Linked DNA regions of Homo sapiens. The protein of the gene in region 7 purifies or fractionates together with the protein of the main gene of each other region. This does not show direct contact. Each region holds a gene or a part of one and is shown on either strand. Other genes may lie near its edges. The genes, in order: ZBTB20, RALY, MACROH2A2, SMARCA1, HOXA10, LRRC41 and TEAD2.

What was found.
Region 1: the proteins of TEAD2 (region 7) and ZBTB20 purify together in Homo sapiens (affinity purification with mass spectrometry; one large-scale study listed by BioGRID and IntAct). This does not show direct contact.
Region 2: the proteins of TEAD2 (region 7) and RALY purify together in Homo sapiens (affinity purification with mass spectrometry; one large-scale study listed by BioGRID and IntAct). This does not show direct contact.
Region 3: the proteins of TEAD2 (region 7) and MACROH2A2 purify together in Homo sapiens (affinity purification with mass spectrometry; one large-scale study listed by BioGRID and IntAct). This does not show direct contact.
Region 4: the proteins of TEAD2 (region 7) and SMARCA1 purify together in Homo sapiens (affinity purification with mass spectrometry; one large-scale study listed by BioGRID and IntAct). This does not show direct contact.
Region 5: the proteins of TEAD2 (region 7) and HOXA10 purify together in Homo sapiens (affinity purification with mass spectrometry, with the first as the bait; one large-scale study listed by BioGRID). This does not show direct contact.
Region 6: the proteins of TEAD2 (region 7) and LRRC41 purify together in Homo sapiens (affinity purification with mass spectrometry; one large-scale study listed by BioGRID and IntAct). This does not show direct contact.

Annotation. Positions count from the first base shown.
Region 1 is NC_000003.12:115,144,232-115,148,964, forward strand, and holds the start of ZBTB20 (zinc finger and BTB domain-containing protein 20), read right to left. Parts: upstream 3,058-4,733; 5' UTR 2,988-3,057; intron 677-2,987; exon of another isoform or gene 582-676; intron 1-581. UniProt on the Homo sapiens protein: May be a transcription factor that may be involved in hematopoiesis, oncogenesis, and immune responses. Plays a role in postnatal myogenesis, may be involved in the regulation of satellite cells self-renewal.
Region 2 is NC_000020.11:34,066,582-34,070,660, reverse strand, and holds part of RALY (RNA-binding protein Raly), read right to left. Parts: intron 1-4,079. UniProt on the Homo sapiens protein: RNA-binding protein that acts as a transcriptional cofactor for cholesterol biosynthetic genes in the liver. Binds the lipid-responsive non-coding RNA LeXis and is required for LeXis-mediated effect on cholesterogenesis.
Region 3 is NC_000010.11:70,104,353-70,108,431, reverse strand, and holds part of MACROH2A2 (core histone macro-H2A.2), read right to left. Parts: intron 1-4,079. UniProt on the Homo sapiens protein: Variant histone H2A which replaces conventional H2A in a subset of nucleosomes where it represses transcription. Nucleosomes wrap and compact DNA into chromatin, limiting DNA accessibility to the cellular machineries which require DNA as a template.
Region 4 is NC_000023.11:129,488,569-129,492,647, reverse strand, and holds part of SMARCA1 (SWI/SNF-related matrix-associated actin-dependent regulator of chromatin subfamily A member 1), read left to right. Parts: intron 1-554; coding exon 555-707; intron 708-2,455; coding exon 2,456-2,588; intron 2,589-3,562; coding exon 3,563-3,711; intron 3,712-4,079.
Region 5 is NC_000007.14:27,171,176-27,176,005, reverse strand, and holds the start of HOXA10 (homeobox protein Hox-A10), read left to right. Parts: upstream 1-1,685; 5' UTR 1,686-1,699; coding exon 1,700-2,657; intron 2,658-3,832; coding exon 3,833-4,107; 3' UTR 4,108-4,830. UniProt on the Homo sapiens protein: Sequence-specific transcription factor which is part of a developmental regulatory system that provides cells with specific positional identities on the anterior-posterior axis. Binds to the DNA sequence 5'-AA[AT]TTTTATTAC-3'.
Region 6 is NC_000001.11:46,293,140-46,297,218, forward strand, and holds part of LRRC41 (leucine-rich repeat-containing protein 41), read right to left. Parts: intron 1-4,079. UniProt on the Homo sapiens protein: Probable substrate recognition component of an ECS (Elongin BC-CUL2/5-SOCS-box protein) E3 ubiquitin ligase complex which mediates the ubiquitination and subsequent proteasomal degradation of target proteins.
Region 7 is NC_000019.10:49,342,267-49,345,506, forward strand, and holds part of TEAD2 (transcriptional enhancer factor TEF-4), read right to left. Parts: intron 1,133-3,240; coding exon 965-1,132; intron 325-964; coding exon 172-324; intron 1-171. UniProt on the Homo sapiens protein: Transcription factor which plays a key role in the Hippo signaling pathway, a pathway involved in organ size control and tumor suppression by restricting proliferation and promoting apoptosis.

The DNA.
Region 1 (4,733 bases), on a different chromosome or scaffold from region 7:
GATCGCAGGAACTTAGCTGTAGCTTTTATTGCCCTTCTAAAACAACCTAATTATTCAGACTGGCCTTTTTTTCTAGAAAGTCCAATTTACCTAATTATTCAGACTAGCCTTTTTACTAGAAAGTCCAATTTGTCTAAAAAGTCTTCTGAAAACTTTCACTAATGCAACAAAAATGATTCGCTTAAAATATTTTTTCCTTAGATTTTCTTCCTATACCAAGTAGTCAAATTCTTATTAACAGGACAACAAGAGGAATTAGATGTTTGCGGGCCTCAAAAACTTTCTGATCCAATTATAGAAGAAACTGGCATCACATCAACTGGTAGTTCTAAACACCCCCTTCCCCAATTATAGCCCTCACATGAAAGTTTCTCTTTCCTCTAGTATTCCATTTAATCTCGTATTTTCTTTTAGTAGCTAGTCAATGTACACATGACCTATATGTGCATTTTCTTGGTTTTGTAGTAATCTTAAAACACGGGCCTAGATGGGTAAGCATAAAGACTTCTTCCTGGAAATGGATAAAATTTGACAATTTTTAACCTGATACTTTCTTTAGCTTGTTAAAATTAGGACCTCACCGTGAAAGGGCATATTGCTGTGGAGGCTGGTAGGCAGCAAACTTGTCACCTGATCTTCATATGCACAAGGCCTGTATTCCACTGGTCTATAAAATCTGAAATCATAAAACCAAAAATATCCAATTGCCCAACTCACTGAGCAGCTAATATAGTTCTAGAAATCTCACTTTTCTTCTTCTCACCTGTTTACTTCAACACCATGTGTCCCCAAACCTAAGGCCCTCCAAAATTGAGCTCCATAAAAATCAAAACCCCAATCTTGAAAATTAAGCCTTGAGTACTGAACAGTTACATCAGCAATTCCTCAAGGGCAATTTCAAAAGCTTTCCTGGGAGACTACTGGAAAGATGGCACAGGGATATCACCATGCACTATGTGTGCAACAACTTTGATATATTCTAAGAATCACAAAGAACAAAGGCATGAAAATCAATGTAATTTTTTTTCTTTCACTAGAAAAATACAGATTCTTCATTTTAAAGCAAAAAAGCAAAAAGTAGCCACATCTTGACTGGACAAACTTACAGTTGACCCTCAGTATCCATGGGAGATTGGTTCTGGGACCTCTCTAGGAAACCAAAATCCACAGATGCTCAAGTCCCTTACATAAAATAGTGTAGTATTTGCATTTAACCTAATCACATTCTCCCACATACTTTAAATCATCTCTAGGTTACTTATAACACCTAATACAAGTAAATGCCATGTATTAATAAATCGTTGTTACACTGTATTGTTTAGGGAATTGTGGCAAGAAAAAAACTATATATATTCTATTCCATCTATTCCCCCACACCCAAAATATTTTTGATCTGCAGCTGGTTAAATCCACAGATGCAGAACCCAGGCACAGGAAGGGCTGACTGTATGTGACCGGGAGTGGAGGGGGATCTATATAAATATTTCCACAAAATAGCAAAGGGTACTTGGGATTGGGAGCATGAACAGAAATGAAAACAAACCATTATAAATTTAAAGATGACTGGTTATCACTTAAATTTAGTGTCTACAGCTATTTATTTATAAAATGGTAATTGTGTTTTAAAACTTTCAATGGCAACAAGTTACAACAGTAACTTCAGAATAGCGTTCACTTGAAAACATTGGGTGAATGGCCTCTATAATTTTTTTAGCTGAAATGTATACACCGCCACGCAGTGAGGAAACTTGACTTTAGCACCCTTTTGGTATTTTTAATAGAAAAAACAGTGGAGAAGATTTTCACATGTCTAGAAAGGTAACATGTTCAACTTAGGTTTGGCCAATGCTGATTCTGAGGACAGTACTACACCCGCAAGCTTCCAAACTACTTCCTGATTCATTCAGATTTTCATTGGAGAGCTGTCATCCTGCTACTGACCTCATTCAACCCAGTTCGGAGTGAGAGATCAGCGGATTACCGCGCTAGGTACCGTAGCTGTACGCCATATTGTGTTTTTCGCTAATGTTTAGTTTGTGTGTGTGCCTAGCATATGTTTGTGCAAGTGTGTTTATCAATAGAACTTTTAGAAAATCCCTGCCTCCTGCCTCTTCAGCATCCTTAAAAAGGATAACAGCTGGGGGCGGGGGGTGGGGGGAGGACCCAAAAGCCACACAGACAGGAATACATTAAACAGTGTACGAGAGACGGCATTTGTTTTAAACTTTCAAGAACCTTCCAACCATTTTTATATCAGGAATCAAAAAGTGTTAACATGTTTTAATGTTTCCGAAGTGGCCCAAAGAAGAGAAAGAAGGAAAGGTGTGTCTTCCCTTCCCAAGCCCCCTCCTCTCTAGTCGTAGAAGCGAAGCAGGCGGGGGCCGGGAGCTCCGGCGTCTGGAGAGACATCCAGCGGCTGTGGGGCCAGGACACCTCCTGCCCCCCAGTTCTCTGAAGACGCTCCAGAGACCGCGAGAGCCACGGCAAGCGGGGGAGGGCGAGGAGGGAGGGGGCAGAAGACAAGCGGGCGCCTCTAGCAGCTCCTGAGCCCCGGCTAGTCCCCCTCAGCTCCTCTTCTTGGAAGCAGCGGCTCCAGGCGCAGGGAGTAGAGAGAAGAAGGCAGAAGACACGTTTCCAGCTGCGGGACGTCCCGCCCGCCCCGCCACCCTTCGACCCTCCCGCGCCTCCCTCCCACCTCCCCGCCGGGTCGGGCGAGGCAGCCGCCGGGCGCTAAGAAGGGCGCCGGGGGAGGGGGCGCGGGCGGGGCGGGGCGGGGCGGGGCGCGGGGGCGCGCGCGCTCATCCAGCTCAGGGCCCGCTGGCTCGCCGCTCTGTAACTCGCTCCCCCAACCCCACCCCGCTCCCCTCCTTCCCAGTCCCGCCGCCCCCCACTCCAGGCGCCTCGCAGACGCCTCATCCCCCTCGGCACGCACACACTCCTCCCTCTCTCCCGCCCGTCCCACAACAAATTAGAGTTTGTGGCATTACCTCCTCGCGCTCTTTAATCTTCTTTCCTCAACTCCTAAACTTCCCCCCGCCCCTACTTCTTCGGCAGAAGGCCCACATTGGACGCTTCACTCCGCGAACCCTCTATCTCTCCCCGCTATAGGATAGCTCTCACGCCAATCTTGGCTTCAGTGAGCCAATGAGAATGGGACGCCCCTCGTGAGGTTGCCGCCCATAAACAAAATGCACTCTTCCTTCTCCCCTCCGCCCCCCCGTCCCCGCCCCTTTCTTCCTCTTCCCTCATCTCTGTCACCTTCGATTGGGCTAAAAGAGGCCCAATCCGCTATCTCAAACATCCATTGGGACGCGGAAACTTCGCTCAGAGAAGTATTAACAGGCGATTGGTGGACAATCCTTCCACTTCGCCCACCCCCACAACCCCCTCCCCCCGCCGCACCTTCACCCTTTCTGAAAAGGTCAATCGTATCTCGTTGTTCAGTGATCCGGGAGGTGGAAGGCTATTGGTTCAGGGAGCCCGTCAGACCGGACTGGAGTGAGCCATGATTGGTCGACACAGGCGCAATCAGGTTAGGTTGCTTACTCCTCCGCTCCTCCCTCCTTTTCCTCCACGCCCCATCTCCCCCACCCCCTACTGCTTTTACTTTCTACGCATTTCTATTTCCTCCTTTATTTATTTATTTGTGATAAACTTAAATGACCCGGCGACGGAGGCGGTACTCTAGGAGAAGGCTGAGGATGACGAGCGGCGGCCTGGGGCCAATTGCCGAGAGGGCTGCGGGGTGAGGGGCAGCGGCGGTGGCCAGTGAGAGGCAGGTGTCTGGAGCGCGCTGGGCCTGTGGAGCCGGGATGCCCCAGCGGAGGCGGCGGTTACCCGCTGTCTGGCGCGGCGAGCTGCGCCGGGGGAGCCGCGGGAGCGGAGAGGGGGGTGTCGCTGTCTTGGACAGCTGAGGCAGCGGGATGGAGGCTGGATCCCGGGCGGTGGGTGGGAAAGCCGGAGGGAGGGTCTGGCTGGCGGCAGCGCGCAAGGCCGCACCGGGTCACGCTTGATTCCCGCGGAATGGGGCGCAGGTTGCCAGACCGGGTCCCCAGTGCTAGGGCTCAAGGAAGAATTTGTTCATGCAGAAGATTTAGAAAAATACTATGTAAAAGAGTTTGGAGTAAGCCTCCCTTAATATAAATGAGATTTATTATCCTGCCGGAAAAAGCAGATTATGTTTCTTATTACTGAACGCCTGAAGTACCAACGACTCAACCAGAGCCCACAGAATTCAATATCCTGGGTGGTAAAAGGAACAAATAAAGCAACACGGAAAATTAAGTGTGGTTCAAATGCTTCAATAAAATCTTCGTCCTCAACCATTTGTCATTCAACATAGCACTCCCCAGAGCCAAATTCTTACCAAATATTGGTCCAGTACTCAGGCATTGGAGAAAAAAATGAGGCTGAAGTCCAGCAGGAAGCCCAGGATAGATTCCTAAAAAGGATTTCTTACAAGGGCCAAGATGGGAGGGTTGGGGAAATCGCTTTTCACTATACAAAGAAAAAAAAATAATTACTGCCAAACTAAGTTGCACTTTTTTAGGCAGCTGATATAGCAATATTTTGTCACAAAATAAGAGACTTTATCAAAAATACCATGCATGCAAAGAATACACTGTACTTGGGATTTGAAAATGACATTGTTTCTAGGACATGGATTTGATGTATAATTTCCAATAGACTTAAGTCATCTGGATTTTAACCCAGGCTTCTTTGGAACGTACAGC
Region 2 (4,079 bases), on a different chromosome or scaffold from region 7:
TCAGTCTGTCACTAAAGTCTATTTCTTTCAACTTTATCATTTTGCTTCCCAGAGCTAAAGCCAATTTAGATACCACAGAAAGTCAGCACATTCACCTGAGAATTATTTTTAATAAATTTATTTTTTAGTTACCCATATTAATACTAACTCGTTCAAATTTTGTTCTGTTTGGCTTAGAGATGAGACTGCACCTACCCTTTGCTCTCTATATTCTGGCCAGGTCTTTTACCCCAAAGGGCTGTACAAATTTTTCCCGTACAGTTTACGGCTGGGCATAGGCTCCAAGAGGAAAGGGGAAAGGAGAGAAGCTCAATTTCAGTAGGAAAAGCCTCAAGTTAAGCCTTGGCAGTTCCCGGCCCAGTCTTCTGCTCATTGGTACAGGTTGATGCCACTCCCTTTTGGAACCCTCCTATCTCAGTAACCTAACCTTAAGGCCATTTCAGGTGATAAAAGACTCCAAATAGCATATATAAAAACTTTCATCAGTCTGCCAACCTATTTACCTAATATTTTGGGGGGACTTCTTTTCAGTGAACTGGAAAAGATACATCTGTATCTCTTATCCCACTAGGGGATAAGAGACTCTTTTTCTCTTAAATCCTCCCAGCCTGGAAGCTGGCACGTTCTGACCAGCAGGTGGTACTGTTTACAAGGGAATCATAGGCTGGACGTGAGCCCAACTTGGGAAGAAACTGCTCCCAGGGTTAGGCTTAAAGTGAACCCAATGGATATACTAGAGTCAGCAGTGCATTATCTCAGATAAAGGAAAGGGGCTGAGAGGGTCCCATCACTGCTACTGATGAAGGGGCTGGTGCCAGCTTTGGAACTGACTTGGAAAGAGACAGACTCTTGTTACTCAGTTTGCCTTTGGTTCCACTCATCTACACTTATCAGGCAGTGAGGGACACAAAGGTAGTAACACACTGTGCATACGAGGCAGGAAATGCTCAATACATGTTTTTCCCATGGGCTTGCCATTCCTCACAGTTCTCGCTGACAGTCCCTCTCCTACATGGATGACAAGCCATTCAAGGGTTAATTCCTTGTCTATCCACGGGTATACAAGAAGTTAATAGGGCCCCTGTGTGGGCATCAGATGATTCTCTCCTAGGTGGTTCAGCTCAAAGTGCTATAGTTTTGGCCTAGGGAGAAGCCACCTGCTTTGGCTAGAGGGAGTCAACCAAGCCTGGGGTGTGGATAGAGATACAAAGAGTGACCTCTACTGGGAGCCACAAGCACCACTGAGCAGGAAGCATTTGCTGAACAGCTGTTCGTGGTATTGTGACGAGATCAGGACTCACCTTGACTGGTGAGCCAAGTTTTTAAGGTTTGGCCCTGCCAGTCTTTTCTCTCATTCCTTGGGGTTTGGAATGATGTACATAAAAGGACTTTGCAAACCCTAAAGCCCTTCACAAGATCTTGTAATTACACTGGCTTGCACCTCTTTATTCCAATACTGCCATCTGCGAACCCCATTCTAGATGAGGGTAAAGGTCACAGTGGAACACATTCTGTATAATGCCAAGGAGGGGCAGCCAGAAGCCATGGCATATGAAGATCAGTTTTCTGATCTGTAGAGGAGAGACTTGGGAAGTGTATGTATGTGGTTGCAAATGCTGCTCTGGGTGAGAAATCTGCAGTTAAAAGGAGAAATGCTCACCTATGGCATGCGCTAGGTACCCAACCTCTTGAGCTCCTCGTCTAAACAGCCCCCTATCCACTTTCATGCCCTGTACACTCCTTTGGAAAGTGGGATGTGCTACAGTTGTGTGGACTCCCTCAGCCCAAGGAGACAGGTATCTGTGGGGGTGTGCAAAGGCTTGAGTGACCACACACATGTTGATGAGGCTCCTCTAAGTGAGGGATAGAGGTGGGAAAGGGAATGAAAAGGAGGTAGAGCCAGGCTAGGTCTCCCTGAACTGCCAGGTTCAAGTACAGAATCCTAATGAGTCCAAGAATTCTAAATTAAGACATGGTATTCCAGGTTGTTGGGAACATCACAATTTATTAGCTTCATTCAGAACCTTCAAATGTTTAAACATATGGTACATGGGTCTCTATTTGTACTCTTATTACTCTGCCCTGCAAATGTTATAGGGCAGGCCTGACAAAACTCGGGGCACAGTAAGTGTTCAATCAATGTTAGGGAGGGAGTGGTTAAACATATGTCCCAGGAGGTGGTCAGAAGGTCTAGCTGTGGGCTGCCTTAAGTGGTTAGGACCACTAGGGCAGAGGTCCCAGATACCATTTTCTAATCTTTCAACCAAACACCCACTTCCACAGACCAACTCAATCCCTCCCACCCAATTCTTCCTATGCTTTTCAAGGTACCCCCTAGCTTAGAGTGGCAGCCCTAGAAAATATTGACATCCATTCAGCAGGAGCTACTTCACTTGGTAAGCTATTTCCTGCCCTGGGCCAAGCTCTGCCTCACAGATTAGCTGTGTAATTGAGAGCAAGGTGTCTGCAGCCCCCAGGGGTCCTAGGTTTAGCAATGAGCTGAGGAGAGGTGGGTAGAAGGATTGTTCTTGGTGGCTGGGGGAAAGGAGAGAAGCAAATTTATTCCTAGAGACTTCTGCAATGTCAGATGAGCAGAGACCTGTGTGCACATGGAGCTTATAAATGCTCTTACTCGGAAGAACAGAAGAGAAGTTTTACCCACAGTAAAAACTTGGCCAGGATGCTACAGCTAGTGAGTAGCAGAGACAAGATTACCCCATGGGTCTTCTGACGCTAAGTCTAGGGTCCTTATATTCCATTTTTCATTTGGGGCTGGTAAGAGACAGGCCCCCAGGACACTGAGGAGCTGGGAGAGAGCACAGTGTCTCAAAAAAAAAAAAAAAAGAAAAAAGAAAAAAGCTACGTTTGAGAAAACTGGGGACTGGCTCCCCAATAAGTGCCTTCACCTTTACCTGCAGGAGAAACAATTGCTGCATAAAAGCTGGGCCTTTTAAGCTAATTAAAATCCACTAGTGAAACAGGCTTTGAAATGCAATTTACGGCTCAAAGGGATGGGCCTGCTTCTCCAGGCTAGTAAGAGTAGAAGAAATGTGGCAAAAACAAATTCAACAAAAAACAAGCCTGAACATGGAGAAAAGTGGCAGGGGTTTGCAAAGGTAGAAAAGCCCTAAAAGGTACCTCTGATCTTTGGGTAAATGAGACACCCAGAGAGCCGTCACAGTAACAACAGCCACTGGCTGGGCACAGTGGCTCACGCCCATAATCCCAGCACTTTGGGAGGCCAAGGCAGGTGGATCACTTGAGGTTAGGAGTTCAGGACCAGCCTAGCTAACATGGTGAAACCCCGTCTCTACTTTAAAAAAAAAAAAATTAGCCGGGCATGGTGGCAGATGTCTGTAATCCCAGCTACTTGGGAGGCTGAGGCAGGAGAACTGTTTGATCACCGCCACTGCACTCCAGCCTAGGCGACAGAGCGAGACTTTCCGTCAAAAAAAGAAAAAAAGAAAAGGACGGCCACTAATTACTGAATGCTGCACAGTATTACAGTATTTAACCCTCACAACAGCCCTGTGAGGAGGTGTTTGACATAGGGAAACTGAGATAGGTTCAGAGAAGCAAGGTAACTGGTTAATAGAGCAAAGCCAGAACTGGAATCAGGACCTCAAAAACAGGCACCTGCAGGGGCAAGATTGCACATGGCACAGGGATGCCTTGGGTTCTGACTTCCCTGGCAAGATTATGTTACCTTGAGTCAGCCACACACGCTCTCCTTGGTCCTCACCCTTTCCCTTTTCTACTACAATTCCTCACAGTTGTACAGAATTTTAGTGAACAAAGCCAGTTTATATCTCTTATGGTATGAATGTGCCTCCTCCACCAAATCTGTGTGTTGAAACCTAATCCCTAATGTGATGGTATTAGGAAGTGGGGCTTTGGGAGTGATGAGGTCCCAAAGGGAAGGGAAAGACCTCAAGAATGAGTTTAATACCTTTAAAAAAAAAAAGAGCCCCAGGCCAGGAAGTGGCTCACGCAAGTAATCCCAGCACTTTGGGAAGCCAAGATGGGAGGATCCTTTGAGGCCTGGAGTTGGAGACCAGCCTAGGCTACATCATGAGACC
Region 3 (4,079 bases), on a different chromosome or scaffold from region 7:
AAGGCAAGGAAGGGATCCTTCCCTGAGCCTCCAGAAGGAACCAGCCCTGCCAACACCTGGATCTTAGACTCTTAAAACTCATTGTGGACTTCTGGCCTCCAGAACTGTAAGAAGACAAATTTGTGTTGTCTGAAGCCACGAACTTTGTGGTAATTTGTTACAGTAGCCACAGGAAATGAATACAGTGGCTTTTATTTTTATTTTTTTATTTTTAGTTTTTTTTTGAGACAGAGTCTTTTTCTGTCGCCCAGGCTGGAGTGCAGTGGTGCGATCTCAGCTCGCTGCAACCTCCACCTCCTGGGTTCAAGTGATTCTAGTGCCTCAGCCTCTCGAGTAGCTGGGATTACAGGCATGTGCTAATTTTTAAAATTTTTTTATAGAGATGAGGTTTTGCTATGTTGCCCAGACTGGTCTTGAACTCCAGGGCTCAAGTGATCCTCTTGCCTCAGGCACCCAAAGTGCTGGGATTACAGGCGTGAGCCATCACACCTGGCCTACTGTGGCTTTTAAAAAATAGCTGTGCCTGGGCCCCACAGAGTCAGGGTACTGACCACCCAGAGGTCCTGACTCAGTAGGTCTGGTGCAGGGGCTTATGCTTATGTGATTTTAGGACCTTCTATGAGTTGAGAACCACTGAACTTGATTGTGTAGTTCCTTGACAGGGACTGCCATTTGATGATCTCCACATGCCCTGCAGAGAGTGGGGTTTCAAAAGCGGGCTGTGAAACTGAATTAGGCCAGCCTTGTCTCACAATTTCTGTCATACTCCTTTGTTTTACTGTTTACTCCCCTAAATGTGGTTCCCATTGGTGACAGAGTTGATAAAGCCCCGTGGCTGCTAAGCTCGAGGGAAGTCCCTGTGGGACTCCCCAGGGGAGCAGTTCCCTCGGATCTGCCTGAGGCAGCTGCAGCTTCAGCCATGAGCCATGCTTGCCCCCACGCTGCCCGTCTGCGCCCTGTGCCCCTCCAGGAACCCAGGAATCGGCGTAGCAAGGGTCCGTGGCCACTAGGGGCAGCACTTGTAACAGAAACGTGTGTCCGCCGTATTCCAGAGCTGTGTGTGGGGTTGAGGTGAAAGACTGACTGGAAATCTATGATGCCCACCTAGTTTATATAAGTATTTCCTGGCAATGTCCACAGTGTCAGGGAAGTGCTGACTGCACTTCCTCACATGGGTAGAAGCCAAATCCAAGGGACCCCTTCGTCCATCAGGGGAGGCTGTAGGCTCCCTGCCTTCCAGTGCCTAGACGGGGCTCAGTGTCATCACACGTGAACGCCTGAGTGCAGGACCCAGGCCACACAATACACCGAGGCCCTGGGTAGGGGCCCGCCATGCGTGCTGACTCTACGACCACGTATATTTGTGCACCAGAAGCAGAGTGTCCCTCTTTGGACTGAACAATGATGCCCCTAAAACTGGAGGCTGCTCTGCTGAGAACCAAGGACCCTGGAGATGGGCCTTGCCTGCATGGTGCCATCTTCCCGAGCACCTGGCTGCTATTGTATGCCGGACAGAGTTTGGCTTGTTACAGTCATGGCTGATTTATTTCATATATTTTAAAAGTATAATCATGTTACTAGCAGAATGGTATTCCTCTAATGTAAAGTCTTTTTTTTTTTTTTTTTTTTGAGACAGGATGCCCCTCTGTTGCCCAGGCTGGAGTGCAGTGGCTCGATCACAGCTCACTGCAACCTCTGCCTCTCGGGTTCAAGCGATTCGATTCTCCTGCCTCAGCTTCCCAAGTGGCTGGGATTACAGGCACCCGCCACCATGCCCGGCTAATTTTTTGTATTTTTAGTAGAGATGGGGTTTCACCATGTTGGCCAGGTTGGTCTTGAACTCCTGACCTCAAGTGATCCACCCACCTCGGCCTCCCAAAGTGCTAGGATTATACTGCACCCAGCCAAAAGTCATTTTTAAATAAAAGGAATATGTTCCTATTGGCAATGTCAAACATCCAATCAAGTAAAAAATGACTTTCAGGGTAGTGCACGATGACATTTCAGTCCAAAACAAAGTATGTTCATGGCAACTGGAAATGAATAACACAGCTTGTAGCCATAATGCTTTGTAATGTTCTCCAGAGTTGTCAAGGATGAGGGTCAAGTTATTGCAAGGGCTGTGACCCTGGTATTTGGTATAAGCACCTATCCACATAATGACTAGGGGCATTCTCTTACCTAATGTGATGTTGCCTGGTGAAGACCTGCATTCTGAGGGTGGCAGTGCTGCTGCTGGGAGCTTCTAGAACCTTCCCCCAGGTGAGCCATCACAGTTCTTGGGAGTCACCACAGCAAAAGGGGACTCTAGGTTGGCCCCTTGTCCTGCTGAGAGGCTGCTACTGCTGATGCCTGGTTTCCGTGACACTGTGGGTTTTCTTTTAACAGCACCTCAGTTTCCCACAATGGCCTCTCTTCTTCCTGCGTGTCTGGGCCCAGTGCTCTTCTCTCTGCTGCAGCCCCACCTCCTAAGCAGCCATCTGCAAGCCATTTTCCTCCTTAGCTTTCAACAGGGACCTGCACCTCATGACCTTTCTGGGGCCCCAGGGCTAACACGTGCCCAGTAAAATGGCCATTCACTCCTGAAACCCGATTCCCCTTTTTCCCTCTTTGTCACTGCAGACACCATCAGTTTCCTCTGCCTTGTCTCATTTCAGGCCCATGTGCTTCATTTTCACCCCCACTCCACCCCCACCCTCATCCAATACAGCTTTCTTGATGGTCTTCGGGCCCCAGCCCTCTGTCTGCCAAACCATCCTCCACACGGTTGCTGGAGCCAAGGTCCTTAAACTCCACATTTAAACTCAGAATCTGCAACTGCTCCTGATTGCCCCCTGGCCTTACTGCAGTCCTCCCAGGCTCCCTTCATGGTCGGCCCCTCTCCCCTTGGAGTCTATCCATTTCTTGCTCTTTCTGGATGCCCAGTCGTCCTCCAGCCAGTGGGCTCAGTCCCCTGCACACATGGGTCTGGCTGCACCTCTGTCTCCACACTTGGCTATCCTCCTTTGTCCCTGACTCCCTCGCCCATTCTCTCCGGGCCTCTGCCATGCAATTCAGCAGCCAGCTGTGCTAAGTGATGTACTGTGTTACCCTGGGGTCCCCGCCTGGTTGTAAAATTCAGGAGTGTTCAGGGCCTACAATCACATCCACATCCTGATGCCTGCGCCCGACAGCACACACCGTAGATGCTTAACGTGAACTGGTTCTGCCCCAGCTGACATCTTCACTGAAGCACTTTTGTATTCCTTGCTGCTGCCTGGCTCCTGCCACAGTCACTGGCAGGCAGGTGCTCCAATATTCAACAAATGAATGAAAGTCCTGACTTTTCATCAGTTTGCTCAGCCCTGGAAACCCTGGACTTACCTTAGCTCCAGCTTCTGCCTCCCTGAACATGCAGCATCGCTGCCTCTCACTGACTCTGCACCTGAAATATTTTCTTGATCCACCCTCCCCGACCCCCTGCCACAGGGTGGGCCTGCACTGCAGTTGGTCTGTTTTAACCATGTTAAGATGCACTTTTTTTTTGTTTAAATATTTTAATATTGTTGAAATCAGGAAGCATCTTAGAACTGCTGTCAGCCTGGAGCTGAGTTCTTCCAGAAAGAAATTACATTTCCTTCTATGTCACCTGGGGACACTACCAAACTAAGGCTATGTCTCACTCTCTTCTCTGCCTCAGGTTTTGAGCTGCACTGGATCTGGCTGCAAATCTTCAGGAGCACTGGCTTGCGGTTCAAATTCTTTTTCTGTTTTTTAGACACAGAGTTTCACTCTTGCCACCCAGGCTGGAGTGCAATAGCGTGATCTCGGCTCACTGCAACCTCTGCCTTCTGGGTTCAAGTGATTCTCCTGCCTCAGCCTCCCAAGTAGCTGGGATTACAGGCACCCACCACCACGCCCAGCTAATTTTTGTATTTTTACTAGACAGGGTTTCTCCATGTTGGTCAGGCTGGTCTCAAACTCCCGACCTCAGGTGAGCCACCCGCCTCTGCCTCTCAAAGTGCTTCGATTACAGGCGTGAGCCACCATGCCTGGCCAAATTCTTTAGTGAGGCTTTTTTTTTTTTTTTCCTCTCTGTC
Region 4 (4,079 bases), on a different chromosome or scaffold from region 7:
TCATTACTTACCTGCTTGTTCCTTGTTACCATACTGATAGAAATCTTCTTACTTTCCCCTTTATCCGTTGCCCTCATTCCCATTTGTAAACCATTTTCTCTGTTGGTTGATCTTCTAAACTAATCATTCATAAGCTAATGGAAATGAAGTTGAGATTTCTGATATTTTACCTCCTAGATATATTTCAGCTCTCACTCAAAACGTTTTCATTATTATTGTTTTTAAATAATGTAAATGAATTATTACTTGCTTAGTTAAATTTGTGTATGTAATTGTTCTAAATTTGTATCTATCGATGTAAGCTTTTAAAGATTAGGAACTTCATTTATATAATATACTTTCTACAGAAATTCACACAGTACAGTATATGTATAGATGCTTACATATTTTTGAAGATGGAAGAATATTATAAAGTATATTTATAAGGAATATTATAAAGTGTGTGAAGATTTTCTATATGTATTTTAAATGTTTTTATTTGTTTCTTAAGGACCCTGATGGTCTAATTTTATTTTTCTCTTTTTCTTCTATCCCTTTATCAATAAAAAATAAAGGAAGCAATAGAGGCTTTTAATGCTCCTAATAGTAGCAAATTCATCTTTATGCTAAGTACCAGGGCTGGAGGTCTCGGAATTAACCTGGCAAGTGCTGATGTGGTTATACTATATGATTCAGACTGGAACCCACAGGTTGATCTACAAGCTATGGTTAGTAATCTTTAATGGTGTCAGAAATTTATCATAGCTCTGAATACTATTGCTATTTACACACATAAAGGTCATTTATGATAAAAAGGTAACAATTTTTGAGAGATTTTATAGAAGTTACAGTAGATTATCCTGGAAAACACAGTTGCTATGCTAATTGCAAAAACAAAAGAAATGAAAGCGAACAACAAACACACCCCAGATCCAACTTATAGCATTTATGTGTTGATTTTGGTTTTTTTCATGAAATAGAAATGTCAGTTTTTTCCCATTCCTACAGATTGAAGAGGACACATAAATTTGTTTTAATGAAAAGGATTAAAAAACAATCTCTTGTTATTATTCTGTTCAACAACTAAATATATTAAAATCCTTAGTACTGAAATTAAGAGAGGTAGGATTTTAACTTTCATAAAAAACAATTTGGGAGAGAAGGCAAAAAGGTAAGAAAGGAATATATTCCAGAAAAACACTTGCTACTTAATAATGATACCATGCAAAAGCTATTCTACACTTAAAAACATTTTTTTTTAGGGAGCAAAGTTTCTCTGACCTTTCATCATGACACTACAGGTAACCCCTTTGATATTTTGGTGTCATTTATTGAACTAGAGCTACAACTTCTCTCAATGTGACTCACATTTTCAGATAAAGAAATATAATTTAGAAGTAAAAAGATGCAAAATAACTTCTTAGGTTTTGAATATATAGCTATGGATAAGTGTCTTTTTGGGAGCAATGAAAAGTCATATGCCAATGAGGTATAACTTAGAAGGCTTTCCTTTTATAATAGAGAATTGAAAGGGATTGACCACTGGGACATTCCAAAATCAATATGCTTTGGCGTAATTATTATTGCATTACGATGGTATTGAACTACCTGTTTGATATGACTAACTAGGAGTAAGCCCCAGTAAGTTACAGTGTTACTGAACTGGAAAATCTAATAGTGATAGCACTTCATTTCCGTAGAAGTCTTAGTGTGCATCCCATCTTTCAGGATTTGCTGGTTCAGGTTTAATGTAAATATGTGCAGGGGATTGCATTCTGTTTGAAAAATGTGCTGTGTTGAAACTTTGTTACTAGGCTCTAGTGTTTTTATATTTAGTACAAGGCCTGTTTTGAACTTACATTTTTTTTTTCTCTACCACCCTCCTCCCTTTACCTATTTGCTCTAGCAGCTTCTGTGTTTTAAAAATACTCTCCCTAGATGGTTTTATACCACTAGAAGTTCGCCACCTGTCACCTGTACCAACTATAAACCATAGGACCAGTCCTAGGCTACTGAATAGTAAGGATAGTAATATCCCATTAATTTTTATAACTCTTTACTGCATATCCCTCAGTAAGCAGAAAGAAGTGCCTGATGATGAAATAAAGCAGACTTTTGCCACCATAGCAACCCTAACTACTTAATAAAATTCCTTGCTAGTTTCGAAGATGTTTATATTTAGTGGCTTAAAGTTACTTAGTAACTCAATCCAGAAACTTTCAGCTCCCTCTTTTATTCATCTTACAGGTGCTTTGCCCTTTGTCCTGGAAGTTTCCCATTAATGGTACAATATAATATTTGCAGATTTCTTTGTTCCCAGTGGTCTTTAGATATTCTCAATATTCATCATGCTCTTTTCCAAAGTGTCAGATCTAGAGAAAAATAACTAATTTTATTTTTAGAATTTTATAGCATATGATGGCTCTAAATTTTATCCAGAATATCCAATATCTTACATTAGAACTCTTTCTACTAGGATCGAGCACATCGTATTGGTCAGAAGAAACCAGTACGTGTATTCCGTCTCATCACTGACAACACTGTTGAAGAGAGGATTGTAGAAAGAGCTGAGATAAAACTGAGACTCGATTCAATTGTTATACAACAAGGTATTTATACATAGAAACTTAATTAGGTGTTTTTTGTAAAACACATGTAGTTTTCTTCAAAGGAGATTACTTTTAATAAAAGTTGACCAAAATTTGAAAACTTAGAGGAAAAATTGAAACATCACTGTGTATCCCATGAGTCTGTACAATTGTTATGTATCACCTAAAAATAAAAGGAAAAAATTTAAAAATGCTAATTGAGGCTGGGTGAGGTAGGTCATGCCTGTAATCCCAGCACTTTGGGAGGCCGAGGCGGGTGGATCACCTGAGATCAGGAGTTTGAGACCAGCCTGGCCAACATGGTGAATCCCTGTCTCTACTAAAAATACAAAAAATTAGCCGGGTGTGGTGGCGTGCACCAGTAGTCCCAGCTACTCAGGAGGCTGAGGCAGGAGAATTGCTTGAACCTGGGAGGTGGAGGTTGCAGTGAGCCGAGATCGCGCCACTGCACTCCGCCTTGGGCGACAGAGCAAGACACTGTCTCAAAAACAAACAAACAAACAAACAAACGAACAAAAAATGCTAATTGAAATCTTCTGAATTGAAACCCTGGCATTTGATATATGGAGTAGTTGAACATCACTAGCTTATTCTTGAATGTCAGTAGCATGCTTTTTGAAGTACCTGAGATTATTTAGCAGATAAAATGGCTACTTTTAAATTTTTGAAAACATATTAGAGGGTACCTTTTCATATAGAGAAGTTTGATCTGAAAACAGAGTTTGAACATGAAAAAAAGTTTCTGTCCTTCTGGGTTTTAACTGAGTTTTACAGAAGGGAATTTATATAGAAATAGAAAGTATGCTAGAAGAAAAACTTGTAGGGTTTATTAAACAAATAACCTTAATGCTCACTAATTTTTTGTTCTTTAAAGCTTTATGTGTGGTTAAATGTGATAATGTCTGATTAGAATGATTATGCCTTCTTTGGAATATGATTGATTGAATATGTACAATTTCAATTTTTATCATTAGGAAGACTCATTGACCAACAGTCTAACAAGCTGGCAAAAGAGGAAATGTTACAAATGATACGGCATGGAGCCACCCATGTTTTTGCTTCTAAAGAGAGTGAGTTGACAGATGAAGACATTACAACTATTCTGGAAAGAGGGGAAAAGAAGGTTAGTTAAAATAGCATTTTATTTTCATGCTGGATTGTTTTAATATCAACATACTTCAGCATACTTATATTTTCATTGTACATGTTTATCTGCATTATCTACATGTTTCAGGTAGCTCATATTCTCTCCAACAACTTGTAGATCTATTTCCAGGGGTAGATTAAGGCTTTAAAACTTTTTTTTGGTGAGAAAGACTAAGAACCAGAGTTTAAAATTGAGTGACCTTATATCTAATGCTTTATTGAAAATACTATATCTAAAAGCCAAGTAAATTTTGTGTTTAATCACATGTATAAGGAATGCTTTTTTTTTTTTTTTTTTTTTTTAAAGAGACAGGGTTTTGCTCTGTCACCCAGGCTGGAGTGCAG
Region 5 (4,830 bases), on a different chromosome or scaffold from region 7:
CCACTGCCCGCAGCGACCGCAGCTGCTTGAATCTCAGAAGCCAGAGCTGGAGCTCTACCTAGCCAGCTCTCTCTGCGCTTTCAGGGTCCTCTCAGGCTCCTCTTCCACCTTGGGCTGGATTCACACTGGGAGGAAGGAGGCAAAGTGCCGCGTATGACCCGGATGCAAGAGTCTTTCCCAGCTGAAGGCAGCGGCCTGAGCGGTCTATTTCCTGGGATGCCGGCGTTCAGTAATGCCAGCTCCGACTGGGGCCGGAGGGGCGGGCAGGCCTAGAGTATCCTGGAGACCTGTAGCCCACGGGCCAGGGGCAAGGCAGCGACCTCCCGGGCTCCACTGGATCTGGCCGGAAAAGGTTGCATTTCCTGAGACTAGCATGAGGCTCACACTTGGGGGCTAGCACCCCAGGCCGGCCATTTCCAGTTGGCTAAAACAGAGCCCCTGAGCCTGCTGAGCAAAGGGCCTGACCTCCACATGCTCTTATAACAGGACCATGAGCCCAGCCCGGCCTTGCAGGGAAAGGATTTCCTCACCGAGGCCTCGTTAAAATGCACACACTGCAGGAGCAAGGACTGCCCTAGCTGAGGGTATGGGAGGGAGGGGAAGAGGGGAGGGGACAGAGAGGTAGGAGTGTAGTGACACTGGTTCTTGTTGTAGCCTCCAGGAGCATATGAGTGCCAAAGCTAACAGGAGAGCAGGAACATAAAGCAGCGGAGGTGTACACCGGGCACACCCCTCCAAGTCTCTCACTTTGGGCCAGCCAAGGACCCCAAGGCCAGCATTTTACTTCCCCGAAATGACTGTGGGCTTAGAGTCTTCCCTAGGTGATGAGGGGATGCTTGGATCTGGCTCTGGCCTTGGGAGTGGGAGTGGGGCCGTCTTTCCATCAAGGCTGGCAGCCGCTTCCCACCCCCAGTCCCGCCAGCCCACCAAAGTCCACTGACAGGAGTTGTAGAGAAGGCAAGCCGGGTGAGCACAACACCAGAGGAGAAGATCCTAACTGGATCAACGGACTAGGGGAGAAAAGTGTTGGGGGTTAGGGGCTAGGGAACAACCACTGCATTTTGGGGAAAAATCTGTGGATACTGGAAGTAGAGGCAAGTCAGCTTCTAGTTCACTCTGGGCTCCTGACACTCTGAGGATCCTGACGGCCATAGGGCCAGGTTCGCCACTTTTGAGGAGGCAGAATTCAGACAAGGGGCCAGTTCCAGATCCAGAGCTGAATGGGAAGCGCGTGAGTCCCCGACACGGCCGCTTCAGTGGTTAGAGTACACCGGGGACTAGTGGCAGCTTCTGCGACAGGGATGGTGAGCACCCAAGGCAGACTGGGCGCGCACCATAAACACCCCACTTGTTAACTGCGCGGGGCCCAAGGGCCCTTCTAAGGGACCCCGGTATGGGGCTCACGTCCGGGTAGGGGCGGGGCGAGCCCAATGGCCAGGCCCCCCACCAGCCACGTTGGGGCAGCCCCCACAGCTCCCGGCCTTCGGGCCAAGGTGTCGGGGTGCGTCTCCTGGCCCATCAATACAGATTACATATTTATATCAATCGCGGGCTCTGAGGGCGCCCTCGGAGAGCGGCCCCGCGCCTACGAAACCAAACTGGGAGTGGTCGCGCGGAAACTCTGGCTCGGGATTGGCTGCGGGCGCCCGCCGCGGTGCGGGGGGATTGCTAATCGTATTCAGCATGTTTTGCACAAGAAATGTCAGCCAGAAAGGGCTATCTGCTCCCTTCGCCAAATTATCCCACAACAATGTCATGCTCGGAGAGCCCCGCCGCGAACTCTTTTTTGGTCGACTCGCTCATCAGCTCGGGCAGAGGCGAGGCAGGCGGCGGTGGTGGTGGCGCGGGGGGCGGCGGCGGTGGCGGTTACTACGCCCACGGCGGGGTCTACCTGCCGCCCGCCGCCGACCTGCCCTACGGGCTGCAGAGCTGCGGGCTCTTCCCCACGCTGGGCGGCAAGCGCAATGAGGCAGCGTCGCCGGGCAGCGGTGGCGGTGGCGGGGGTCTAGGTCCCGGGGCGCACGGCTACGGGCCCTCGCCCATAGACCTGTGGCTAGACGCGCCCCGGTCTTGCCGGATGGAGCCGCCTGACGGGCCGCCGCCGCCGCCCCAGCAGCAGCCGCCGCCCCCGCCGCAACCACCCCAGCCAGCGCCGCAGGCCACCTCGTGCTCTTTCGCGCAGAACATCAAAGAAGAGAGCTCCTACTGCCTCTACGACTCGGCGGACAAATGCCCCAAAGTCTCGGCCACCGCCGCCGAACTGGCTCCCTTCCCGCGGGGCCCGCCGCCCGACGGCTGCGCCCTGGGCACCTCCAGCGGGGTGCCAGTGCCTGGCTACTTCCGCCTTTCTCAGGCCTACGGCACCGCCAAGGGCTATGGCAGCGGCGGCGGCGGCGCGCAGCAACTCGGGGCTGGCCCGTTCCCCGCGCAGCCCCCGGGGCGCGGTTTCGATCTCCCGCCCGCGCTAGCCTCCGGCTCGGCCGATGCGGCCCGGAAGGAGCGAGCCCTCGATTCGCCGCCGCCCCCCACGCTGGCTTGCGGCAGCGGCGGGGGCTCGCAGGGCGACGAGGAGGCGCACGCGTCGTCCTCGGCCGCGGAGGAGCTCTCCCCGGCCCCTTCCGAGAGCAGCAAAGCCTCGCCGGAGAAGGATTCCCTGGGTAAGCAGGGCTGCAGAGGGCTGCAGTCAGGCGGGCAGACAGGCAGACACAAGGAGGAGAAGGATCAGAAAACTAGGAGCCCGCGCAGCAGCCGGCCGGCCTTGGCCCAAGCTGCAGGCAGGCTGACCTTGTGAACTTGCTTTTTAATATTTGGGCGTGGGGACGCAGTAAAATTCATGTCCGGCTTAGCGCCCCACAGCAAGACGTCCTCGGCGCTGGCCTCAGCTCCCCCTGACTAGGGACGAGGACACCAGCGAGCAGGCCCCCTCCTGTGCGCTCTTTCCTGTGGCCGGGAGGACCCAGAGCCCTGGTCCCTGCCCAGCCTGCGCGGCGCGGCCCACGCGGGGGGAGGGGGAGGGAGGGAAAGTAGCTCGCCCGCAGATAGCGCGGATGTTTGTAAGGCATCCAAAATAAGCAGCCGCCAGCGCCAATAAATAAGCCCATTAACCGGCGAAGTTCGAGTTTACGATCCCCCATGCTTTTTTCAAAGTTGCTGAGGGGCGGGAATCTTCGTTGCGGGAAGAAGAAAAGGCAAATCCGGCCTGGAAGCGGGGGGCCCTGAGCTGAGAGCCAGAGAAGGGCCATTTCCCTTCCCCTGGACCTCGGAATCGCCCAGCTATCTATCCCTGGCTCCTGGAGAAACTTGAGGGAGGGCCCTTGACCCCCGAATCGGTTTTTCCTGCCTTCCCCATTGGACCAATGATGCCCTTCTTTCTCCCCTTATCGAGTCTTGGGCAATCAGGGCCCTGGGGTGAGACAGCCAAGCTGCCTGGCCCATCTTCCAAGTAAGCACCCCGCGCTCCTAGCCTGGGGGCTACAGGAAATGCTTGTCTGCCATATGGCAAGAGGCAAAGAAAAGCGTTAAGTTCAAGATGTACAGCCTGCCCTCCCAGGCCTTTCCTTCTGCAAGCATCTACGGCTTAGCGCTAAAACAGGTGTTTGGAAAAGTGGGGGAAATGTAAATTGGAAGGGTCATGTAGATTGAAGGCCCACTCAATTTTTGTCATGACTTTTGGAGGAACTGCTTGCTCTCAGCAAGCCAAAAACGGGGGCACGACTCTCTTCTCTGTGACTTGGGACATCTCTCTTATGGGAGAAACGGAGGCAATTCACCCCCGCGGGCAGCCCGTGTGGCCTCGACTTAATCATCCCCTCTTTATTCTCTTACATGCCAGGCAATTCCAAAGGTGAAAACGCAGCCAACTGGCTCACGGCAAAGAGTGGTCGGAAGAAGCGCTGCCCCTACACGAAGCACCAGACACTGGAGCTGGAGAAGGAGTTTCTGTTCAATATGTACCTTACTCGAGAGCGGCGCCTAGAGATTAGCCGCAGCGTCCACCTCACGGACAGACAAGTGAAAATCTGGTTTCAGAACCGCAGGATGAAACTGAAGAAAATGAATCGAGAAAACCGGATCCGGGAGCTCACAGCCAACTTTAATTTTTCCTGATGAATCTCCAGGCGACGCGGTTTTTTCACTTCCCGAGCGCTGGTCCCCTCCCTCTGTCTTCAGGCTCTGCCCAGGAACTCGCACCTGTGCTGGAGCCCTGTTCCTCCCTCCCACACTCGCCATCTCCTGGGCCGTTACATCTGTGCAGGGCTGGTTTGTTCTGACTTTTTGTTTCTTTGTGTTTGCTTGGTGCTGGTTTATTTGTTGTTTTCTGGGGGAAAAAGCCATATCATGCTAAAATTCTATAGAGATAGATATTGTCCTAAGTGTCAAGTCCTGACTGGGCTGGGTTTGCTGTCTTGGGGTCCCACTGCTCGAAATGGCCCCTGTCTTCGGCCGAGCTGGTTTCCTGCCCAGCCTGGGGCAAACCTAGCCGGAAGGCCGAGGTCCCATTGTTGGCGCTGAGGTGTCTGGCCTGAGGTCAATGGTGCAAAGGAGCCGCCACCGGGCATGTCTGCCTGGAGTGCTGTGCTGTGTTTAATCAGGGGATACAGGCCCCTGGGTTTCTTTTTTCTTTCTTCCTTTCTTCCTTGGCCAAGAGAAGGGCTTACAGGCATGGACATGCAGGTTGGCAAACGGGCTTGACTTTGGCTGATTTAAAAAGTGAGAAAGAAAGTAAAAAAGGTTAATTTTTCCTTCCTCTGTAAGATATCCCAGCTTTAAAAAGAAAAAAAAAGAATTACCAAGAGAAGGGGACTTCTCTTCCAGTTTCTGTAAGGTCTT
Region 6 (4,079 bases), on a different chromosome or scaffold from region 7:
CACCACTGCACTCCAGCCTGGCGACAGAGCGAGATTTCGTCTCAAAAAAAAAAAAAAATTAGTACTCTCTCCATCCTGAGATTAGGATGGTCACTTTTATTATTTCTTTAGTTGTTTTGTGCTCTTTTTTAAGACAGGTTATGACACTGGAGTGCAGTGTCATTATCATTGCTCACTGCAGCCTTGACCCCTGACGCTCAATTGATCCTCCTGCCTCAGCCTCCCTAATAGCTGGGACTAGAGGCGCACACCAGCACCCCCAGCTAACTTTTGTATTTTTTGTAGAGACAAGGTGTCGTCATGTTGCCCAGGCTGTTCTTGAACTCCTGGGCTCAAGCAATCTGACCACCTTGGCATCCCAACGTTTTTCTGGGATTGTAGGCATGAGCCATCACACCCGGCCTGATTTGTGCTTTTACTTTTTTTTGTTTATTGGTTTTATTATTTTTGGAGACAGAGTCTCACTCTCACCCAGGCTGGAGTGCAATGGAGCGATCTAGTCTTACTGCAACCTCTGCCTCTTGGGTTCAAGTGATTCTCATGCCTCAGCCTCCCAAGGAGCTTGGATTACAGGTGTGTGCCACCACGCCCGGCTAATTTTTGTATTTTTATTTTGTTTTGTTGTTGTTGTTGTTGTTTTCTGAGTCAGAGTCTCACTATGTCACCGAGGCTGGAGTGCAGTGGTGCCATCTCGGCTCATTTTAACCTCTGCCTCCTGGGTTCAAGCAATTCTGCCTCAGCCTCCCAAGTAGTAATCCCAGAGTAGCTGGGATTACAGGCATGCACTACCATGCCTGATTTTCAGTAGAGACAGGGTTTCACCATATGCACCAGGCTGGTCTCAACTCCTGACCTCAAGTATCTGCCCACCTCAGCCTCCCAAAGTGCTGGGATTACAGGTGTGAGCCACCACACCTGCCTGTTGGTTTTATTCTTTTTTAAATTATTTTTTTCTATTCTTTGGTGTTGAAACTTTTTTGTTGTTTTTGTTTTAAGACAAGTTCTGGCTCTATTGCCCAGGCTGGAGTGCGATGGTGTGATCTCGGCTCAGTGCAACCTCTGTCTCCTGGGCTCCCTCCCACCTCAGCCTCCTGAGTAGCTGGGACTACAGGTGCACAACACCACAACAGGATAATTTTTCTATTTTTTGTAGAGACGGGGTTTCTCCATGTTGCCCAGGTTGGTCTCAAACTCGTAAGCTCAAGCAATCCACCCACCTTGGCCTCCCAAAGTGCTGGGATTACAGGTGTGAGCTACCGCGCCCAGCCCTTTCTTTCTTTTTTTAAGAGACGTGGTTTTGCACTGTCCCCCAGGCTGGAATGTAGTGGCATGATCACAGCCTCCAACTCCTAGGCTCAAGCTATTCCTCTCACTTCAGCCTCTGGAGTAGCTGGGATTATAGATGTCAGTCACTGTACCCGACTCTTGTGCCTTTACTTTTTACAACTAATTCTTTTTTTTTTTTTTTTTTTTGAGTCGGAGTCTTGCTCTGTTGCCCAGGCTGGAGTGCAGTGATGTGATCTTGGCTCACTGCAACCTCTGCCTCCTGGGTTCAAGCAATTCTCCTGCCTCAGCCTCTTGAGTAGCTGGAACTAAAGGCACGTGCCACCACGCCCAGCTAATTTTTGTATTTTCAGTAGAGACAGGGTTTCACCATGTTGGCCAGGCTGGTCTTGAACTCCTGATTTCGTGATCCACCCGCGTTGGCCTCTCAAAGTGCTGGCATTATAGGTGTGAGCCACTGTGCCCGGCCACAATTTATTGTTTATACAAAAGTCATTAGAGTATACTGTAAAGTGAGGCTCTAACTTAACTTTTTCCAAATAGCTAACCAATTGCTAGAGAATAATTTATTGGGTAAATCTTAATTTATTCATTGCTTTTTCTCCAGAGTATCTATTCTATTATACAGATCTTTTTTTATTTGTTAGTTTTTTGAGACAGGGTCTCTCTCCTGTTGCCCAGGCTGGAGTACAGTGGTGCGATCTTGGCTCACTGCAGCCTCGACTTCCCAGGCTCAGGTGATCCTCCTACCTTGGTCTCCCGAGTATCTGGGACTACAGGCATGTGCCACCATGCCCAGCCAGTTCTTTGTATTTTTAGTAGAGACAAAGTCTTGCCATGTTGCCCAGGCTGGCCTTGAGCTCCTGGGTTCAAGTGATCCACCTGCCTCAGCCTCCCAAAGTGCTAAGATTACAGGTGTGAGCCACCGTGCCTGACCTTACAGATCTCTTTATATACCCCAGTACTACACAGTTTGAAATACTATTGCTTTATAAGCATTCTATATTTATCTTGTTCACCATTGTATCCCTGGAACCTAGCATAATGCATGGAACTGAGCAGGCACTGAATAACTGTTTGTGACTTATGAGCTGAAGGCTATTGTCATGCAAAAGTGGGAAGCGGAAAGACACCCTCTGGAATGGACATGCTCCAAGTTAGGACCTCTGCCTAACTGACTGTTGGGCCACCAAGCCTGGGGCCTCTAAATGCTCTGAAATGCTTTGAGCCAAGAAGACAGAAAGCTTTCTCCAAGAGAAAAATATAATCTTTATCACTTGCTGGTCAACTCTAGTGCTTGTGAAATACTGGAACAAAGTGAATCTGATGTTTCCTTAAAGATAGCAAAAAGCAGTTACTGTTTTCTAATATTCTTGAGTCTGCTTCTCTTCCTCATAAGGTCTGTTGTCCTCATTCTGAACGCCAAGGGTTGCAGTCCAGATTTGGAAGTGAATAAGCCGAAGGAGATGGGGTTCAATGTTACTGAACCCAGTGCATCCCCAGAAATTAAATCTCCAATTCCTGACATTAGCTTTTTTTCCACCTGTTATTTGGCCTCATTCACCATAGAAGGCCCAGTTCAAATACTACTTCCTAGGAAAGACTTTCTTATTCTCTTCTCTCTCAACCTTCTTACTATCCTCTATTACACCACTTATCCTATCATATGTGATCTATTTGTAGATTTCCCTATTAAACTGGTAGGTCCTTGCCGGGCGAGGTGGCTCACGCCTGTAATCCCAGCACTTTTGGAGGCCGAGGTGGGTGGATCAACTGAGGTCAGGAGTTCGAGACCAGCCTGACCAACATGGAGAAACCCTGTCTCTATTAAAAATACAAAAAAATTAGCTGGGTGTGGTGGCGCATGCCTGTAATCCCAGCTACTTGGGAGGCTGAGGCAGGAGAATTGCTTGAACCCGGGAGGCAGAGGTTGCAGTGAGCCAAGATTGCGCCATTGCACTCCGGCGTGGACAACAAGGGCAAAACTCCGTCTCAAACAAAACAAAACAAAACAAAACAAAACAAAACTGTTAGGTCTTTAAGATTAGAGGCTGCATCTATTCTTCCAATATCTAGTGTAAGATCTGGTACCTGGTTAAGTTTCAGTAAATGTTTATTGAATTAAATCTACCCCATCACCTAGTTATGGGGCAGCAAAAGAAACTGCTTAAATGAGAGCTCCAGTGATTTATATCTGTATCAGTGAATAATAGAATCTCAGGTCTAAAAGGAGCTCTAAAAGTCATCTTGTGCAACCCCTTTTACAATGCTGAATCCCCTGCAGAACACCCTAGTGTCAAGGAGTTACACAGACTCCATTTGAACTTAGTGATGGGAAGTTTATTACCTCTAGAATTAGCTTGTTTCATAAGCTCAGGGTTTAAGCTTTACGTAAACTTCAGGTTAGCAAAAATGTATCTTCCATTAGCTTCCATCCAGAACAAGTCTATTAATCCCTCCTTCATGTGACAGCCATTCATATATTTCAAGATGGGTCATGTTTCCCAAGTCTTCTCTTTTTCAGGAAAAACATCTCCAGTTGTCCCAATGTGACTCACATAATGTGGCTTTGACTTTCTCCAATCTCCACGGGTAGCCTGACCATTGCAGAGCTAGGCAGGACTGTTGTCCACCTTGTCCTTCAGCCTATACTATATTTACATTAGTTCACACAGCTCAAGGTATAGTCGTTATAAGTGGCTTCAACACATTGTTGACTAAACTCCCTTAATCTTTTTTATACAAGCTGTTACTAATCATACTCCTTTATCCCTCATCCCGATACCATGCAATTG
Region 7 (3,240 bases):
GGGTCCCCGCTGCATCAGTTTCCTAGTTAAAAGAGCCTCAGGCTGAGGGCTCACTTTGGAGTCCCTGCTGTGTCAGTTCCTGGGTGAGGAGATCCCCTAGACTGAGGGTCTGTTATAGGTACTGTCCCTCCACACTGGGGGGCCCCACTCCAGCCCAGCCCCAGGCATCACCTGGAGGATGGTGAAGTTTTCCAGGACGCTGTTCATCATGTATCGCTCAGGCAGCTGCCGCAACTTGTGCAAGAAATTCACCAGGTACTCGCACATGGGCGAGCGCAGCAGGCGGTACACAAATCTGCCGTCCTCCAGCTGGGCCCGTTCCGTCTGAACCAAGGGGAAGGGAGTTGGGAAAATGGTGGCTGAGAGACCCACGGGTCACCCCAGGAATTGAGCTCCACCCTGTGCCTCTAAGATGCCACCACACTCACTCTCACTGCCACCTTCCTTTCATCACCCCACCCACAGTGACTGGAGACTGGGCCTGAACCCTCGGAGATCCGAATCAGGATCTCTGAGCCTGCAAATCACAAGCCCCTCAAAGTGATTCTCTGAACCCCCAAAGACCTCTGGACTCCTCTAACCTCCCAGCCCTCAGATACCCTCCAAAGACCCCTCCATGACGTCTTCAAACTCTGACTTCTAAACTTGAGACTTCCCCAAGTCTCCAGCAACTGTAAGTGTGACTTCTGAACCTTCTTGCCCTAAGAACCTCTCCATATCCATAAGACCCTTCTCAATCTCAGTGACTCTAAGTCTCTATACTACACATTACCTGTCAGCCCGCAGAATGATCCCTGCCTGTGACTTCTGAACTGCCCATTAGCTCCCAACGCATGCATTAAACCCTCAAAGAGGCTGGGACCCACTCCCTCCATGCATACTCCCAAATGCCTGAGTCATGATGGCTTCTGGTCCATTCTGCACCCCCAAGTGCTGACCCAGAGCTCCACCCCTCCAGCCTCACCTCCACCTTCTCCACCACCTGCTTGCCAAAAGAGCAGACCTTGGAGGAACAGGTGAGGGTCATGTGTTCCAGGCTCTCATACTGGCTGCTCACTCCGTAGAAGCCACCACTGCTGATGCTGCCACCGGCCCCTGCCTCCTCACCACTTGGGCCCCAGTTCAGGTCCGCCTGGGAGATGGGAAGGCACAGATGAGTCAGAGGGGACATCCCTTATAAACAGTGGGGACTACCAGGCGCAGTGGTTCACACCTGTAATCCCAGTACTTTGGGAGGCCGAGGCGGGCGGATCACCTGAGGTTGGGAGTTCAAGACCAGCCTGACCAACATGGAGAAACCCCATCTCTACTAAAAATACAAAATTAGCCGGGCGTGGTGGTGCATGCTTGTAATCCCAGCTACTGGGACACTGACGCAGGAGAATCACTTGAACCCGGGAGGCAGAGGTTGCGGTGAGCCGAGATCATACCATTGCACTCCAGCCTGAGCAACGAGAGCGAAACTCCATCTTAAAAAAAAAAAAAACACAGTGGGGACTCTGCCCCATAGCCTACCATTACCCCTGCAGTTCCCGGCTTGATTCTTCAGTGTTGTTTTGTTTTTTTGTTGTTTGTTTGTCTTTTTTTTTGGGGGGGGGGGAACAGGGTCTTGCTCCGTCACCCAGGCAATGTGTGGTGGTACAATCACAGCTCACTGCAGCCTCGACCTCCTGAGCTCAAGTGATCCTCCCATCTCAGCCTCCTGAGTAGCTAGGACCACAGGTGCATGCCACCACATCCAGCTAATATTTTGTATTTTTTGTAGAAACAGGGTTTCACCATGTTGCCCAGGCTGGTCTCCAACTCCTGGGCTCAAGCGATCCTCCCACCTTGGCCTCCGAAAGTGCTGGGATTACAGGCATGAGCCACCGCGTCAGGCTTTCAAAGTTCTCCAAGGGCTGGTTTCTGGAGAAGATCCACCGTCCATCAGCGTTGAAGAAGTCTGGGTCCCCAAAACAGTCTTGGCCCTGTCTCCCCAGTAACCAAAGGAGCCCTGGAATTCAATTTCAACCTTTTTTCTTTTCTTTTTTTTTTTTCTGAGATGAAGTCTCGCTCTTGTTGCCCAGTGCAATGCCGCGATCTTGACTCACTGCAACCTCTGCCTCCCGGGTTCAAGCGATTCTCCTGCCTCAGCCTCCCAAGTGGCTGGGATTACAGGCGCACGCCACCATGTCTGGCTAATTTTTGTATTTTTAGTAGAGACAGGGTTTTGTCATGTTGGCCAGGTTGGTCTCAAACTCCTGAACTCAGGTGATCCACCCACCTAGGCCTCCCAAAGTGCTGAGATTACAGGCATGAGCCACTGTGTCCAGCCAATTCAACCTTTTTCCCTTGAAGCCCGCAACTCAAGAGTTCAGCCCCTTCCAAGGGCCTGGTTACTATGGCAGTTACTTCTTAGCAACCAGTTCAAGATGAATACCTCCCTCTAAGCCCCTCTCACTCTGGTTGCTAAGGCAAGTGGCTACTCCCTAGCAACGGGACCTCACGGAGCCTGAGGAGGCCTGACTCCTCCTCAGAGCACTTCCCCCTCGGCCAAATCTGAGAGGTCAGACTCCCTCCATGACCCCAGTGGCCAAGTGTGTGTAGACAGCTGGCCAAGTGTCACTAGGCCAAGTGGGGCCTAAGGAAGCCTAAGAGCTCATCACACCTTTGGTCTGAGTCACCTCCTTGCGAGGCGCACCTCTTCCTCTTCCTAACTTTAGTTGCTAACACTGTGCCAGGTCCGTCTTCTCAGGGGCCCGACTCCATCTCTCACCGTGGCAAAACCAAAGACCTTACCAGCTGCTCCTCTGAACCCCTTCAGCAGCTGGGCTTCCTAAGGGGGTGGCTCTCCAGTCCTGGGACCTGATAAGGCCTGTCTTAAGCCCCAACAATGTCTAAGCCCTCAGCTGCACATCCCCAGAGCAGTTTCAGGCTTCTGCTTCACATGGCAGAAAGCTCCAGAACCGTGAACAGCAAGCTCCAGAACAACAACACTCCCAGCAAGAACAGTAAAGTTCAGGCCCTCAGCAGGCCTTTCCTTCCTTTCCTTCCTTCCTTCCTTCTTTCTTTCCTTCTTTCTTTTCTTTCCTTTCTTTCCTTCTTCCTTTCTTCCTTTCTTTCTTTCGGCAGGGTCTCATTCTGTCACCCAGGCTGGAGGGCAGTGGCACAATCTTGGCTCACTGCAGCCTCCACCTCCCAGGCTTAAGTGATCCTCCTGCCTCAGCCTCCACAGAAGCTAGGACCACAGGTGCGCACCAC